Linked DNA regions of Homo sapiens. The protein of the gene in region 1 purifies or fractionates together with the protein of each later gene. This does not show direct contact. Each region holds a gene or a part of one and is shown in the gene's direction. Other genes may lie near its edges.

What was found.
Region 2: the proteins of MIGA2 (region 1) and PACC1 purify together in Homo sapiens (co-immunoprecipitation; one large-scale study listed by IntAct). This does not show direct contact.
Region 3: the proteins of MIGA2 (region 1) and KCMF1 purify together in Homo sapiens (affinity purification with mass spectrometry; one large-scale study listed by BioGRID and IntAct). This does not show direct contact.

The regions. Positions count from the first base shown.
Region 1 is NC_000009.12:129,034,258-129,040,081, forward strand, and holds the start of MIGA2 (mitoguardin 2), read left to right. Parts: upstream 1-2,368; 5' UTR 2,369-2,424; intron 2,425-2,676; exon of another isoform or gene 2,677-2,710; coding exon of another isoform or gene 2,711-2,759; intron 2,760-5,824. UniProt on the Homo sapiens protein: Regulator of mitochondrial fusion: acts by forming homo- and heterodimers at the mitochondrial outer membrane and facilitating the formation of PLD6/MitoPLD dimers. May act by regulating phospholipid metabolism via PLD6/MitoPLD.
Region 2 is NC_000001.11:212,379,539-212,383,904, reverse strand, and holds part of PACC1 (proton-activated chloride channel), read left to right. Parts: intron 1-3,867; coding exon 3,868-4,010; intron 4,011-4,366. UniProt on the Homo sapiens protein: Chloride channel gated by pH that facilitates the entry of chloride ions into cells upon exposure to extracellular acidic pH. Involved in acidosis-induced cell death by mediating chloride influx and subsequent cell swelling.
Region 3 is NC_000002.12:85,023,143-85,027,508, forward strand, and holds part of KCMF1 (E3 ubiquitin-protein ligase KCMF1), read left to right. Parts: intron 1-4,366. UniProt on the Homo sapiens protein: E3 ubiquitin-protein ligase which accepts ubiquitin from an E2 ubiquitin-conjugating enzyme and then transfers it to targeted substrates, promoting their degradation by the proteasome.

The DNA.
Region 1 (5,824 bases):
CTCTGGCCTGTGCACTCATTCCGCCTGGACCCCAACAACATCCCCGACTCCCTTTAGCCACTCTGCCCAGTCTCCTATTCACCCCATGCCAGACCTCTCACCAGTCCCACCATGCCGGGCACTGGGCATCCGCTGTTTGGACCACCCTCCCCTCCCGTCCCCTCCCTTGCCTTCCCCTTCCCTCCCCTCCCCACGGAGTCTCGGAATGCAGTGGCGCCATCTCGGCTCACTGCAACCTCCGCCTCCCGGGTTCAAGAGATGATTCTCCTGCCTCAGCCTCCTGAGTAGCTGGGATTACAGGCGCATGCCACCACCCCTGGCTAATTTCATCATGTTGGTCTGGCTGGTCTCGAACTCCTGACCTGGTGATCTGCCCGCCTCGGCCTCTCAAAGTGCTGGGATTACAGGCGTGAGCCACCACATCCGGCCTTGGACCCCTTTTCTTTCTGGAGCCCTTCACCTCCCCAGGCAAGCCCAGGTATCTCCTTGGTATCCCACATTCCCCCATTAGAGTAACCATCACAGGGGATTGTGATTAAGTATCTGCTCCCCAGACAATGAGCTCCCTGGTGCCACCACATACCTGTCTCTTGTCCACCACTGAGCTCCCATGTCCAGCCAAAGGATTGGCACACTTAATTAGTTGAATGAATGAAGGAATGTGGCTTTACCGACAATTGTAATTTTCCTTTTTTTTTTTTTTTGAAATGGAGTCTTGCTCTGTCACCCAGGTTGGAGTGCAGTGGCGCAATCTCGGCTCACTGCAACCTCCACCTCCCAGTTTCAAGCGATTCTGCTGCCTCAGCCTCCTGAATAGCTGGGACTACAGGCACACGCCACAATGCTGGGCTAATTTTTATATTTTTAGTAAAGATGGGGTTTCACCATGTTGGGCAGGATTGTCTCGATCTCCTGACCTCATGATCCACCTGCCTTGGCCTCTCAAAGTGCTGGGATTACAGGCGTGAGCCACTGCTCCCGGGCTTTTTTTTTTTTTTTTTTTTTGAGATGGAGTCTGGCTCTGTTGCCCAGGCTGGAGTGCAGTGGCGTGATCTTGGTTAACTGCAATCTCCTCCTCCCGGCTCAAGCAATTCTCCTGCCTCAGCCTCCCAAGTAGCTGGGATTATAGGTGTGTGCCACCACGCCCAGCTAGCTTTTTTATTTTTAGTAGAGACCGGTTTTCACCATTTTGGCCAGGCTGGTCTCGAACTCCTGACCTCATGTGATCCACTCACCTCAGCCTCCCAAAGTGCTGGGAATAGAGGCATGAGCCACTGCTACCGGCCGACGATTACAATTTTAAAACGTAGTTGTGCCCAGCTCTTCGCAGTTATGGAAGGGCTGATACACCGTCCTCTTTCCATCCTCACCAAAGCCCTATGATTTGGGAAAGGGAAGATTTTATCCCTATTTCTTTTTTTCTTTTTGAGACGGAGTCTCGCCCTTTGGCCCAGGTTGGAGTGCAATGGGTGGATCTCAGCTCACTGCAACCTCTGCCTCCCGGGTTCAAGAGATTCTCCTGCCTCAGCCTCCTGAGTAGCTGGGATTACAGGTGTGTGCTACCAAGCTTGGCTAATTTTTTTTTTTAATCTTTAGTGGAGACAGGGTTTCACCAGGTTGGCCAGGCTGGTCTCGAACTCCTGACCTCGTGATCCACCCACCTCGGCCTCCCAAACTGCTAGGATTACAGGCGTGAGCCACCGCGCCCGGCCTCATCCCTATTTCATAGAGGGGTAAGCTCTAGAGAGCTGAAGTGGCAACACTTGATTCTATCTCAGGTCGGCCTGATCTCAATCCTGGTATTTAGTGTAAGACCCAGATAGGTGGCCAGAACTGAAGACCCCTTGACTCCAGCTCTCAGAGAGACACTGTCTAGCGGCGAGACCTGGCACTTTTGCAAACAACTCCAGAACAAGGGGGAGAGTGGCGACAGTATAAGAGCATGCTGCGGGAAGTCAGGGGCGGTAGTATTTGAAAATGGGCGCTTGGAGAGTGGGAAGGATTTGTCCTTGTGTGGAACAAGAATAGAGGATCCTAATACGAGGGCTCAGCCTGCTTTGGCGTACTCCAAGAAAGCCCCTTGGAGGTCTGACTGCTCCGCTTCAGCCCCTTTAAGAATGGCCCCGCCCCACCCAGCCGCCCATGTCGATCTAATCTGAATGACCAATAGTAGAAGAGAAGAGACCACTTTCGCGCTTCAACCGCACTAGGAGGAGGGGAAGAGGGCGGGAGAGGCGGAATATAAGCTTGGTCACATGACCCGCCTAATTGGCCAGAGGCTGCGGCGGCCCTGAGAGACTCAGCGATGCTCATTGGCCAGAAGAGGGTGGGGGCTTGGCGCTAGGCCACGCCCCCGGGCGGCCGGTTTGGTTGCGCAGCCGCCGGGGAAGGAGACGCTGCCCTTCCGCAGCGATGGCATCCCGGGTGAGTATCGGCCCCGGCCGAGCCCCCAAGGCGGGCGGGCAGCGCGGCAGGGCCGGGACTTGAGCGGAGGACCGAGTAGGCGCAGGTGTCCGGGCCCAACAGGACCAGGAAGGTGTCGGGGTTGGAATGAGTGGGTACCCGGGCCGGGGACGGTGCGAGAGGGTGCCTTGCTTGGGAGCGGAACGAGAAGGTACTTGGGTCAGGGAGGTGATGCCCGGGCCTGGAACGTGGCGGGGATTGGAGCAGGCGCGCAGGTACCCGATCCGAGGCGGGGAGAGCACCCGGGATGGAAGGAGCAGGCGTGCGGGCCGTGAGCGGCGCCAGAGGGTACCTGGGTGAGTTTCAATGATATTCCGGGGTGGGGGCAAGAGAAGAAGGGGCTGCCCAAGATGCCTGGGGTGGAGTGAGCAATTTCTGAAGACGGGGATATTGCTGAGGTCCAACGCGGGGATGCCCGGTGCCCGGCATGGTGGGACTATTGAGGGGTCCGGCATGGGGTGAATAGGAGACTGGGCAGAGTGGCTCAAGGGAGTCGGGGACGTTGTTGGGGTCCAGACGGAATGAGTGAGTGCACAGGCCAGAGTCATTAGTGGGGTGGTCTAGCGCAGGGGAGGAGGCGCGTAGGATGATATGCTTAGGCACCCAGGCTGAGGGTGCTGTAAGTGCTGTGGTGACGGTGGAATGAGGAGGTGTCCGCCTAAGATTGTAGGGCACAAGAGATGGCTGCCCAAGTGGGGCCAGGCCCTACACAGCAGTAGAAGTGTCCATTTGGTAGGGGACCTTGCCGTGGGCTTTTCATTGTGGAGAGGAGGTGGAGGGGTCTCAGCTTAGGCCCTGGAGGACGGACAGGGTGCCAGGGGGACGGACACAGTGTGGGTTGACTGGATTTGGATCCATCCCTGGAGTGAAGCAGGCTTGGGGGCTGGTGATGTTACCTCGCACCTGCAGGCTCTGCCTCCCAGTGGGGACAGCAGGGGCTGCTCTGGACTCTCCCGCAAACAGTGGGCCTCAGTCACCCCTGTAGCGTTTATTTGTTCAGGCTCATCTTTAACACCATGTGGGCTTCTCACTTGGGGGCCCAGAAGTCCTACAGTTGTGGCCTGGAAGGAGCAGTGGCAGTTGTAGCAGGCAGAAGCTGGGAAACCCTGCCACAGCCTTGAGATCCCCCAGAGCTTGGCCGCTTAGTACTCGGTGACCTCAGGCAGGCTGCCTCATCTCAGAGCCTCCGCGTTTCCCCATCCTTGAGATAAACATTGGCCATTGCGAGGGTTCTGAGAGGACTGGACCCAAAGCCTGTCGTGGAGAGCCTGTTCTGGATCTGGCCTGGAATAAGAGCTTGGGAAATAGTAGCTGCTGGCCCTCTGATGTTCTTGTCTTCCCTCTTTCTGAGACCTGAGCCAGCCTGGGGTTGGGGTGAAGGGTAGGGGGACGTGGCTTACAGTATTAACCTAGGTCCTGACCACTGCAGCTCACGTAGCTCAATTCACAGCCTCCTGGGCAGATGTCTCTACCCCTGACAACCTGGAAGCTTCCTTAGCCTGCCCTGCCCTCTCACACACCCCCACCAGCCCTAGAGCGAGACTGACAGGCTCCTCAGTCCTTCCCACTCACTGGGGAGAAGCTGTTTCTTCTGCTGGCCCAGTGACTTTGGCGGCCATCCCAGGGAGACAGGGTCTGTCCTGGCTTGTGTGTTCCTTCCGCTTGAGGTCCCGGGAGACCTTGAAGGCATCCTTGGGCTTGGAGCTGGAAGTGGGGGAGGACCCTGCCGGGTCTTGGGGTCCAGGCTAGGTGTGATCAAGCCACTTATTTCCTGGCCTTGGGAAGGGGCAATGGGGTACCCTGGCAGGGAGGGGAGTATCTCCCAAGGTCCAGGGGAAAGCTGCCCAGTACTCTGTGGTCTGCTGGGGCTTGCTACTTCCTGCTGCATGTCAAATTTAGCAAAAGCATTGTACTGAGCACAAAGTCTGACTCTACCAAGTACCAGCTGTGTGACTTTGGACTCCTGACTTAGCTTGTCTGAGATTCAGTTTCCTCATTGGAAACCAGAGGTGAGGCTGGGGGGAAGGTGGGTGGCATCAACTTCACATAATCCTTTTTTTTTGTTTGTCTTTTTTTTTTTTTTTTTTTTTTTTGTGGCAGAGTCTCGCTCTGTCACCCAGACTGAAGTGCAGTGGCGCGATCTAGGCTCACTGCAACCTCTGCCTCCTGGATTCAGGCGATTCTCCTGCCTCAGCCTCCCAAGTAGCTGGGATTACAGGCACGTGCCACCACACTGGCTAATTTTTGTATTTTTAGTAGAGACGGGGTTTCACCATGTTGACCAGGCCAGTCTGGAAGTCCTGACTTCAGGTGATCCGCCCGCCTCAGCCTTCCAAAGTGCTGGGATTACAGGCATGAGCCACCCCAGCCAACCTCACAAAATTCTAATGATTCAGTGAGATGATGGATGTAAAGAATGCAGCACAAAATACGTAGCGTGGAGTAGCTCTTTGTTTGTGTGTGTGTGTGTGTGTGTGTGTGTGTGTGTGTGTGTGTGTGTTTTATTTTATTTTATTTTTTTGTTTTTTATTTATTTATTTTTTGAGATGGAGTCTCACTCTATTGCCCAGGCTGGAGTGCAGTGGCGCGATCTTGGCTCCCTGCAAGCTCCGCCTCCTGGGTTCATGCCATTCTCCTGCCTCAGCCTTCCGCGTAGCTGTGATTACAGGTGCCCGCTACAACGCCCGGCTAATTTTTTGTATTTTTAGTAGAGATGGGGTTTCACTGTGTTAGCCAGGATGATCTTGATCTCCTGACCTTGTGATCCTCCCTCCTCGGCCTCCCAAAGTGCTGGGATTATAGGCGTAAGCCACTGTGCCCAGCTTCTTTATTTTATTATTATTATTATTATTTTTTGAGACAGAGTTTTGCTCTGTAGCCCAGGCTGGAGTGCAGTGTTGTGATCTCAGCTCACTGCAACCTCTGCTTCCCGGGTTCAAGCGATTCTTCTGCCTCAGCCTCCTGAGTAGCTGGGGTTACAGGTGTGCACCACCACGCCCAGCTAGTTTTTTGTTTGTTTGTTTGTTTGTTTGTTTGTTTGAGACTGAGTTTTGCTCTTCTTGCCCAGGCTGGAGCGCAGTGGCCCCATCTTGGCTCACTGCCACCTCCACCTCCCAGGTTCAAGCCGGTTCTCCTGCTTCAGCCTCTTGAGTAGCTGGGATTACAGGTGCGTGCCACCACACCCAGCTGATTTTTGTGTTTTTTAGTAGAGATGGGGTTTCACCATATTGGCCAGGCTGGTCTCAAACTCCCGACCTCAGGTGATCCACCCATCTCGGCCTTCCAAAGTGCTGGGATTACAGGCGTGAGCCACCGTGCCCAGCAAGAAAACATTCTTAACTTTGTGGGAGGTAAAAAGATG
Region 2 (4,366 bases), on another chromosome or scaffold:
AGACCCTGGAACCATTCTCTACAGAAGCGAAGGGAAGATGATTCTTTGTGTAGGCATAGGAAACAGAGCAGACTTCTACAATGGAAAAGGAGAGAGAACTAAAGGAAAGGACTCTTCCCAGAGTAAAACACACTGGAAAACTCAGTGTGCTTCCACAGAGCATACTTAGCTTTCCCATGCAAGGGAGAGGCCTATTAGAGAAACAGAAATTTACTACTTTGGAAGAAACCAAAACCCAGACCTATACTAGTCAACCTAATCCTTCATTCATAAATAAGAATGGAGAATTAATGGTCACCAGACATTTGCATGAAACCAATGACAGAAAAGGACCAAGATGAACAAATAGAATGGACTCTAGAATAGGGAAGTAGAAGCTAATTAAAACAAAAAGGAAAGCAACTTTTAAACAATTCCAATGTGGAGTTATATGTATAATAGAAGCTCTTTGTCTGGATTCCCAGCTCCCTTCATCTCTCTGTAAAACACGCTAATGAAAACTCGTGGCTGCTTCCGTCCCACTAGGTGCCTATTCTCTGGATGCCCTCCTCTCCTCCCCCAGTTGAAGTGTATGCTTAGGAGGAGTCAGTGAGGGTCATTTCCAAACCTGTGTAGGCCAGTTGCACTTGTTACAATAGTTACATAATTCGACTAAAGAGTGTAAAAACCCTTGAAATAAGGGCACAAAGAGAGAGTTGTTTTTATGGAAATGAAGTTGAATGCAGCTACTGCCCCCAAGTCTGAGTGTTGGTTCATCTCCTCCATCAATTTCTTGAAGTCCACAAGCTATAAACTAACAGAGAAGTTATCTCCTCCCTATCCACCAAGTTTCCTACCCAAACCAGCATATAGCAGTGGAGGAAGAATATGATGAGAGCAGTAGAGCTCCCATTTGGAAAAGGAAGAAGGGGAAGGGCCCGCAGCTCTGCTCTGCAGCAGTGGTGGAACCCTGCAGGGTGGGACCGGTGAGACGCCTTCTTGGCATGAAGTAAGCTCCTTGGTTTGAACCTGTTGCTGCCCTCAGAAAGAGACTCCTGTGTGCTCTGGCCTCGTCCCCTGGGAGCTTCTGCCTTGGTGGTAATGCTCTGTGGCCATATCTGAAGTGGACATTAGAAAATACGCCCTCCCTGGTGGCTGCACAGCTTGTGCCACTCACTTCCTGCTTGTGTGAGCAGCTTTAGGGCTAAACAATTGCAAACTTGGAGGGCGGCTTCTTACCTGCCTCCTGCCACTGCCTATGTTTGCAGTGAGATTTCAGAAATGTGTAGGCTTCTGGCTGTTCGCATCTAATCAAGTTCATGTGAAAGTGACCCCAGTCGAGGGTCTCATCCTGTTGTATTTGTAAAATCTTCGGAATTTTGCTGATTTTCTGGTGCTTTCTTTCATGCTCTCAATTTAATGGTAGTTATTTTTTACCAAATGCTCTGCTCTGGCACAATAAGGTTTGCCACCTTTCCAGCCTGCGGGATCCTTATCTATTTCCTTACTGCCCGCCATTTTCCCACTGCCCAAATGTTTGGCTGTTCCCTCATTTTGATTTTTTTTGCAACCATAAAACACTCCAGCCGGGCGTGGTGGCTCATGCCTGTAATCCAGCACTTTGGGAGGCCGAGGCAGGTGGATCACGAGGTCAGGAGATCGAGACCATCCTGGCTAACATGGTGAAACCCCGTCTCTACTAAAAATAAAAATAAAAAAATCAGGCGTGTGTAGTGGCACGTGCCTGTAGTCCCAGCTACTTGGGAGGGCAAGACAGGAGAATCGCCTGAACCCGGGAGGCGGAGCTTGCAGTGAGCCGAGATCACGCCAGTGCACTCCAGCTTGGGCAACAGAGCGAGACACCGTCTCAAAAAAAAAAAACAAGAACACTCCAGTGTCAGCTAACAAATTGTGTATTAGTCAGAGTATAGGCTAAGCTACCAAATAAAAACAAAACCTGCAAATACAATGGCTGAGATGAGGGAGAAGCCTCCTTCTCTCTCTGAGAACAGTCCTGGCATGCAGGCCGTGTGGCGTAGTGGGCAGTACTGCCTCATAGGATAGTCCAGCCATGACTTTTGTCTTGTCACTGTGCTGTCCCCTGGGCATTGTTCTGGTCCATGTGGGCAGTGTGTGTGTGTGTGTGTGTGTGTGTCACTGTGCTGTCCCCTGGGCATTGTTCTGGTCCATGTGGGCTGTGTGTGTGTGTGTGTGTGTGTGTGTGTGTGTGCAGTGTGTGTGTGTGTGTCTGTGCACATGCCCAGGCCTGGGAAGGTGGAGGGCAAGCAGTTCCCTTTTCAGGAAATGGGGTGGAGTTGAATGAGTCCCCTTTTCTTTCGCACATTAGGAACTTTATCACGTGGCTACATTTGAGGGCAGAGATGAGGCTCCAGCAGGGGGAGTGGATTCTGCTGAAATCTGGGTTGGGAAAGCCATTCTAGTACTAAAGGAAGAAATGGATAATAGAAACCAGGGACAGTGCTTTCTGTTGCACACTTAAAACAAAATGGTACAGAAAGGTTGAAAAATAAATAGATGGACAAAGCTGTCTTGAGAAGATGCAACGAAAACCAGAAGTGACAATATTAATAGTGTGGAATTCCACGTGCAAAAGTTTGCAAGAAGGATGTTTAATATTGATAAGAGGTTCAACTCCATACTCTCCACTAAGACGACTGAACAGTTCCAAAACTTTATGTACAAAACAGCATGACATTTATATATTTTAAGCAAAACCCGTTAGAAGTAAAAAATACCATCACTTTAGAGCACGATTTAAACACCCCTCTCAGAAATTCACAGATCAAATAGACAAAAACTAGAAAGGATAAGAATTGAATAGTGCAGTTAATAAATTTAGAGTATGTATGTGTGTGTATACATGTGGGGGCACAAAACTTTGTAACTGACAGTGTACTCACTCTTTTTCAAATCTCTGTAGAGCATTTATTTATAAAAGTTGATGTAAAAGACATTTTTTTCTAAAATTAATCTATAAATTCAGTTTCTATCACAGTTAAAAGTCCCAGTGAATTTTTTTGTGGAACTAAGCAAGCTAGTCTTAAAGCATACTTAGAACACGTTCAAAAATAACCAAGACAAGTTTGGGGATGGGGAAGAGTAGTAGGGAGAGCACCTTCCCAGATCTCAGAACAGTGGAAAAACCACAGGAATCAAAGTGGCACAGTACTGGACAGAGACAGACAAATGTGTGGGCTCTGCTAGGGCCAGAAGCAGACATAGATATTGGTTCTGCATGGAATTTAGTATAGGATAAAGGAGGGAGGGGAAGAGGCTTCAAAACCTGTCTCTATGCATTGTTTGGGAAGTAGGAGTTAGAGCCCTATTTCACACTATATACAGAGCTTAAAGCCAGGTATATAAAGTATCTAAATGTAAAAAAGATTAAAAAGTGCTATAAAGAAATAGAGGAGAATATTGATATAATTTTGGCTTTCCTCAGCAAGCAAAACCCAAAGCCGTAAAGAAAAGGATTTAAGGTTTTACTACGTTAAATTTAAAGTTTCCATAGGACAAATGACATTGGAAACAAAGTTAAAAGAAAAATGACAGACTGGAAGAAAAGATTGGCACACATAACAGATGAAAGTGATCATCCTTGCTAAATTAAGAGCTTCCATAACTCAAAGAACCAATGAGAAAAGTGGACAGAGGATGAGCTGCATTCAGCTCTGGTTGGGCATCATATGGGGAAAACTCCCCAGGAATGAGCATGAGTCCCAGCCCAGTCCTGTTGTTGGCTAGTGGTCCCTTTGGAGACCACTGGGCAAGGAGCTATGGGCTTTCCAGTCAGTACTTCTGCCCTCAGACCCAGAGGCCTCTGTGTACTCTCCCAGGACTGAGACTCTGTCCTTTTTCTCTCTGCAGAAATCTGCCCTGATTGTCCAGGGGCCCCGGGAAGTGAAAAAGCGGGAGCTGGTCTTCCTCCAGTTCCGCCTGAACAAGAGTAGTGAGGACTTCAGCGCCATTGATTACCTCCTCTTCTCTTCTTTCCAGGAGTTCCTGCAAAGGTGGGCTTTTAGAGTTCACAGTGGGCTTACTGTCTACTTTTTATCTTATTCCAGCTGTGTATGTCCCAAGGCTAGAGACGGAGGGGTGAGGGCAGGGAAGGGAAGGGGCATTCTCAGATGACCCACTGGCCCAGGAAGGGACCTCATGAGCTTGGCCGGTCCACTCAACATCTTATCACAAAGTTAAGCAAATCTGGTGTGGAGGAGCATGCTGGCTCTCCATGCACATAGTGCTGGCTGGTTCTAGAGAGATCATTTGGTCTCACCATTGCCTGGGGCTGCTGAGGAGTAGGGGAAGTTGCCTTTGATTTGTAAGTCCCTTTGAGAGCAAGTTCTTGTGTGGTTCCTTGGTTTCC
Region 3 (4,366 bases), on another chromosome or scaffold:
TCCCAAAGTGCTGGGATTACAGGCGTGAGCCACCGCGCCCGGCCAATACTGTATGTATTCTTTGAAATTTCCTTTCACTCATCTGAGGCAGATGTTCTTACCGTTGCTGTGATTCATTCTTTTTCCAATTCATTCTGTGCATATTGAACTGTTGAGCCTTTGAATCTGAATAGCCTTTTTTTTTTTTTTTTTGAGACGGAGTCTCGCACTTTCTCGCCCAGGCTGGAGTGCAGTGGCGCGATCTCAGCTCACTGCAAGCTCCGCCTCCTGGGTTCACGCCATTCTCCTGCCTCAGCTTCCTGAGTAGCTGGGACTACAGGCGCCCGCCACCACGCCTGGCTAATTTTTTTTTGTATTTTTAGTAGAGACGGGGTTTCACCGTGTTAGCCAGGATGGTGTCGATCTACTGACCTTGTGATCCGCCCGCCTCGGTCTCCCAAAGTGCTGGGATTACAGGCGTGAGCCACCGCGCCCAGCCCCTGAGTAGCCTTTTTAAAATTCAGTTACAAAAACTGCCGTCAACATTCTTCCACATTCTCTAGGTGCACACAGACAAAAGATTCCCTCCCCGGGAATTTATTTAAGAGTGAAATTACGGTATCATAGGAGGTATATGTGTTTAACTTGACTAAAAATATGAACAAATTTTTCAAAGTGGTTGTGCTGATTTACACTCCTACCAGCAGGGTATAAGCACTTCTGCTGCCCTTTATCTTCACTAACACTTGATATCATGAAACTTGTAGTTTCTTACCGGTTTGGTAAATGTAAAATGCTAGCTCACGGATGTTAATCATGCACTTCTTTGATGACTAATGAGATTGAGCATCTTTTCATATGTTTACTGGCCATTTATGTTTGTTGTTCTTTGAGTGCCCTTTGACAGGTTTCTCCATTTTTCTACTAAGCATTCATCATTTACTTACTGATATGTAAGAGTTCATAATGCATTCTGAATACCAAACTTTTGTCTGTCATGTATGTTGTACATATCGCCAGTTTCTGAACCTTATATTTTCAATCAATGTAGGCTGTGAAAAGACGAAGAAAAAGGCCGAGCGTGGTGGCTCACGCCTGTTGTAATTCCAGCACTTTGGGAGGCCCAGGCGGGCAGATCACCCGGAGTTCGAGACCAGCCTGGCCAACGTGGTGAAACCCCGTCTCTACTAAAAATACAAAAATTAGCTGGGCATGGTGCCAGGCGCCTATGATCCCAACTCCTTGGGAGGCTGAGGCAGGAGAATTGCTTGAACCCAGGAGGCGGAGGTTGCAGTGAGCCAAGATCTCACCATTGCACTCCAGCCCCGGCGACAGAGTGAGACTCTATCTCAAAAGAATAAAACAAAAACAAAAGATGAAGAAAAAGTCTTAACGTAGTTGGACTTATCTCTTACTTTTTGATTTGGAGAGTGAGAGAGAGAGAGAGAGAGAGAGAGAGAGAGTGTGTGTGTGTGTGTGTGTGTGCGCGTGTGTGTGTGAGAAAGAGAAAGATTTAAGAAATTGTTTTCTACTTTAGACTCATAAAAATATTCTATATTGTCTTCTAGAGATATTTTTCATTGTTCTTTTGAATCCGTCTTTAAACCATGTGGAATTGATTTTTTGTGTGTATAGGATATGGGGAGAGATCCAATTCTGTTTTCCCCACATGCAGATAATCACCTGTTCAGCACCATTTATTGTCCATTCCCTTTTTTTCTCAGTGCTCTTTAGTGACCTTGCTGTTGTAAAACAGATTTCAACATCTGTTTCTGGTCTTTCCGTTCTATTCCATGGGCCAGTTTGTCTCTACCCTGGTGCCATTCCATCTTACTGTAGTTATTATAGGTTTATTATTTGTTATGGTGTTACTTATTATTTATTAGTTTAGCTCTTGATATATAAAACAAGTCCCTCTATCTCATTTTTCTTGGGAGCATCTTGACTCTCCTTGGCCCTTTTTGTAACTTGCATCAACATTTGAGTCAGCTTACCATGCCCCACAAAAAAATTCTTTTTAAATTTTGGTTATTAATTGTATTGAATCCACAAATCTGTTGACATTTTATTATGAACCTTCCAGTCCATGAAGTTGGTATTTATATTTTTTAAAGTCCTTTAGTGTCTTTGAATACATTTTTACTAATTTGCTTCATAAAGGGCTGCCTATCTTTGGTTAGATTTATTCATAGGCACTTTTTTAAAATGCTGTTGCAAATGGCTTATTTTTTTATTGCAGTAAAATATACATAGCATAAAATTTATTTTAACCCCTTTTAGGTGTACAGTTCAGTAGCATTAAGTATATTCACATTCTTGGAACCATCACCACTGTCCATCTCCAGAATTCTTCCATTATCCCAAACTTGAAAACTCTCTACCCACTAAACCGTAACTCCCCGTTCTCCCTTTCCTCAAGCTTCTGGCAACCACTGTTCTACTTTCCTTCTCTTTGAATTTGGCACATCTCGATGGAATCACAAATGACATTTTTTTGGTTTTTTGAGATAGGAGTCCCGCTCTGTCACCCAGGCTGGAGTGCAGTGGCGCAACCTCAGCTTACTGCAACCTCTGCCTCCTGGGTTCAAGTGATTCTCTTCCCTCAGCCACCCGAGTAGCTGAGATTACAGGCACACACCACCATGCCTCACTAATTTTTTTGTAATAAATGACATATTTTTAATAATATGTTTTTCTGTCTGTTTTGCAGTGAAGAAATACAATCAGTACTTTATTTAGGAGGTCTCTATCTAACAGCTTTGCTTACTGCTTCTAATAACTTAGCTGTATTTGGGTTTTCAGCATAAACAAGCAGATCACATGTGAATAAAACTATGAAACCCACCTACAGAATTTTAAATTTTAACTTTTTTAAAAATATTTTTTAAAGACAGAGTCTCACTCTGTCGCCTAGGCTGGAGTGCAGTGGCATGATCTCGGCTCACTGCAACCTCCGTCTCCTGAGTTCAAGCCATTCTTCTGCTTCAGCCTCCCAAGTAGCTGAGATTACAGGCGCCCACCACCACGCCCGGCTAATTTTTGTATGTTTAGTAGAGATGGGGTTTCACCAGGTTGGTCAGGGTGGTCTTGAACTCCTGACCTCAGGTGATCCGCCCACCTCAGTCTCCCAAAGTGCTGAGATTACAGGCGTGAGCCACTGCGCCTGGCATATTTTAACTTTTTTTTTTTTAAACAAATACAAATGAGATCTCTCTATGTTGCCTTGGCTGGTCTTGAACTCCTGGCCTCAAGCAGCCCTCTTGTCTTAGCCTCCCAAAGTGTTGGAATTACAGGTGTGAGCTATGGCACCCAGCCCTGTTCAAGCTTCTTTCTTTCCTTTATTATTATTATTATTATTATTATTATTATTATTATTTTTATTTTTTCCAGACAGGGTCTTGTTCTGTTCCCAAGCTGGAGTGCAGTAGTTTGATCATGGTCACTGCAGCTTCGAGCTCCTGGGCTCAAGCATTCCTCCCACCTCAACCTTCCAAGTAGCTAAGGCTACAGGCACAGGCCACAATGCCCAGCTAATTTTTAAATTTTTTTGTAGACAGGATCTCTCTATGTTGCCCAGGCTGGTCTTGAACTCCTGGCCTCAAGCCATCCCCCTGCCTCGCCTTGCCAAAGTGCTTGGGATTATAGGTGTTAGCCACCACACCCAGTTATTTCTTTTAACAGGTCAAGAATTATTTGATGCCCCAATTCTGATATGAACTCATGACTGATTCTGCTGCTCCTGCTAGTTCTTTCTGATGGTGCTTTGTTTTTTTGTGTGTATTTTATGGTTTAAATTATGAACTTATTCTTTGGATGTTTATATATGCCAGATGCTTGGTATCAATTCTAATTTAAGACCACTTAAAATTCTTGACCCAAGGTCTTTGGAACCATTTGATAGAATTTGGGCTATAAACCCATGAGGACTGGTTTGTGGTTATGGCTTTTTGTGTTATTTTGTGCCCCTAGGGCAGGGGGCTTTCACTGGGGTAATTTTTGTAATCCCCTAGGGAGGATTTCTAGCCTACCCATGCATTGAGAGTATATTAGGGTCTTGGTTTTATGAGGAATCTTCTGTTAATTATCCCACCTTCACTAGGCCTTTGTCCAATAATGCTGTGGACCTTAAGCTTAGATTTTTACCTGCTTGGGCAAATACCCTCATGGTGAAAAGCCTTCTTTAGTGCTTCCAGTCACCAGTTCCTCTTCGTCTTGGTTTTTACCTTCTTGCTGGCTTATCAAGGCTTTTTTTTTTTTTTTTTTTTTTTTTTTTGAGACAAAGCCTCACTCTGTTGTGAGGCTGGAGTGCAGTGGCGCGATCTCAGCTCACTGCAACCCTACCTCCTGGGTTTAAGCAATTCTCATGCCTCAGCCTCCCAAGTAGTTG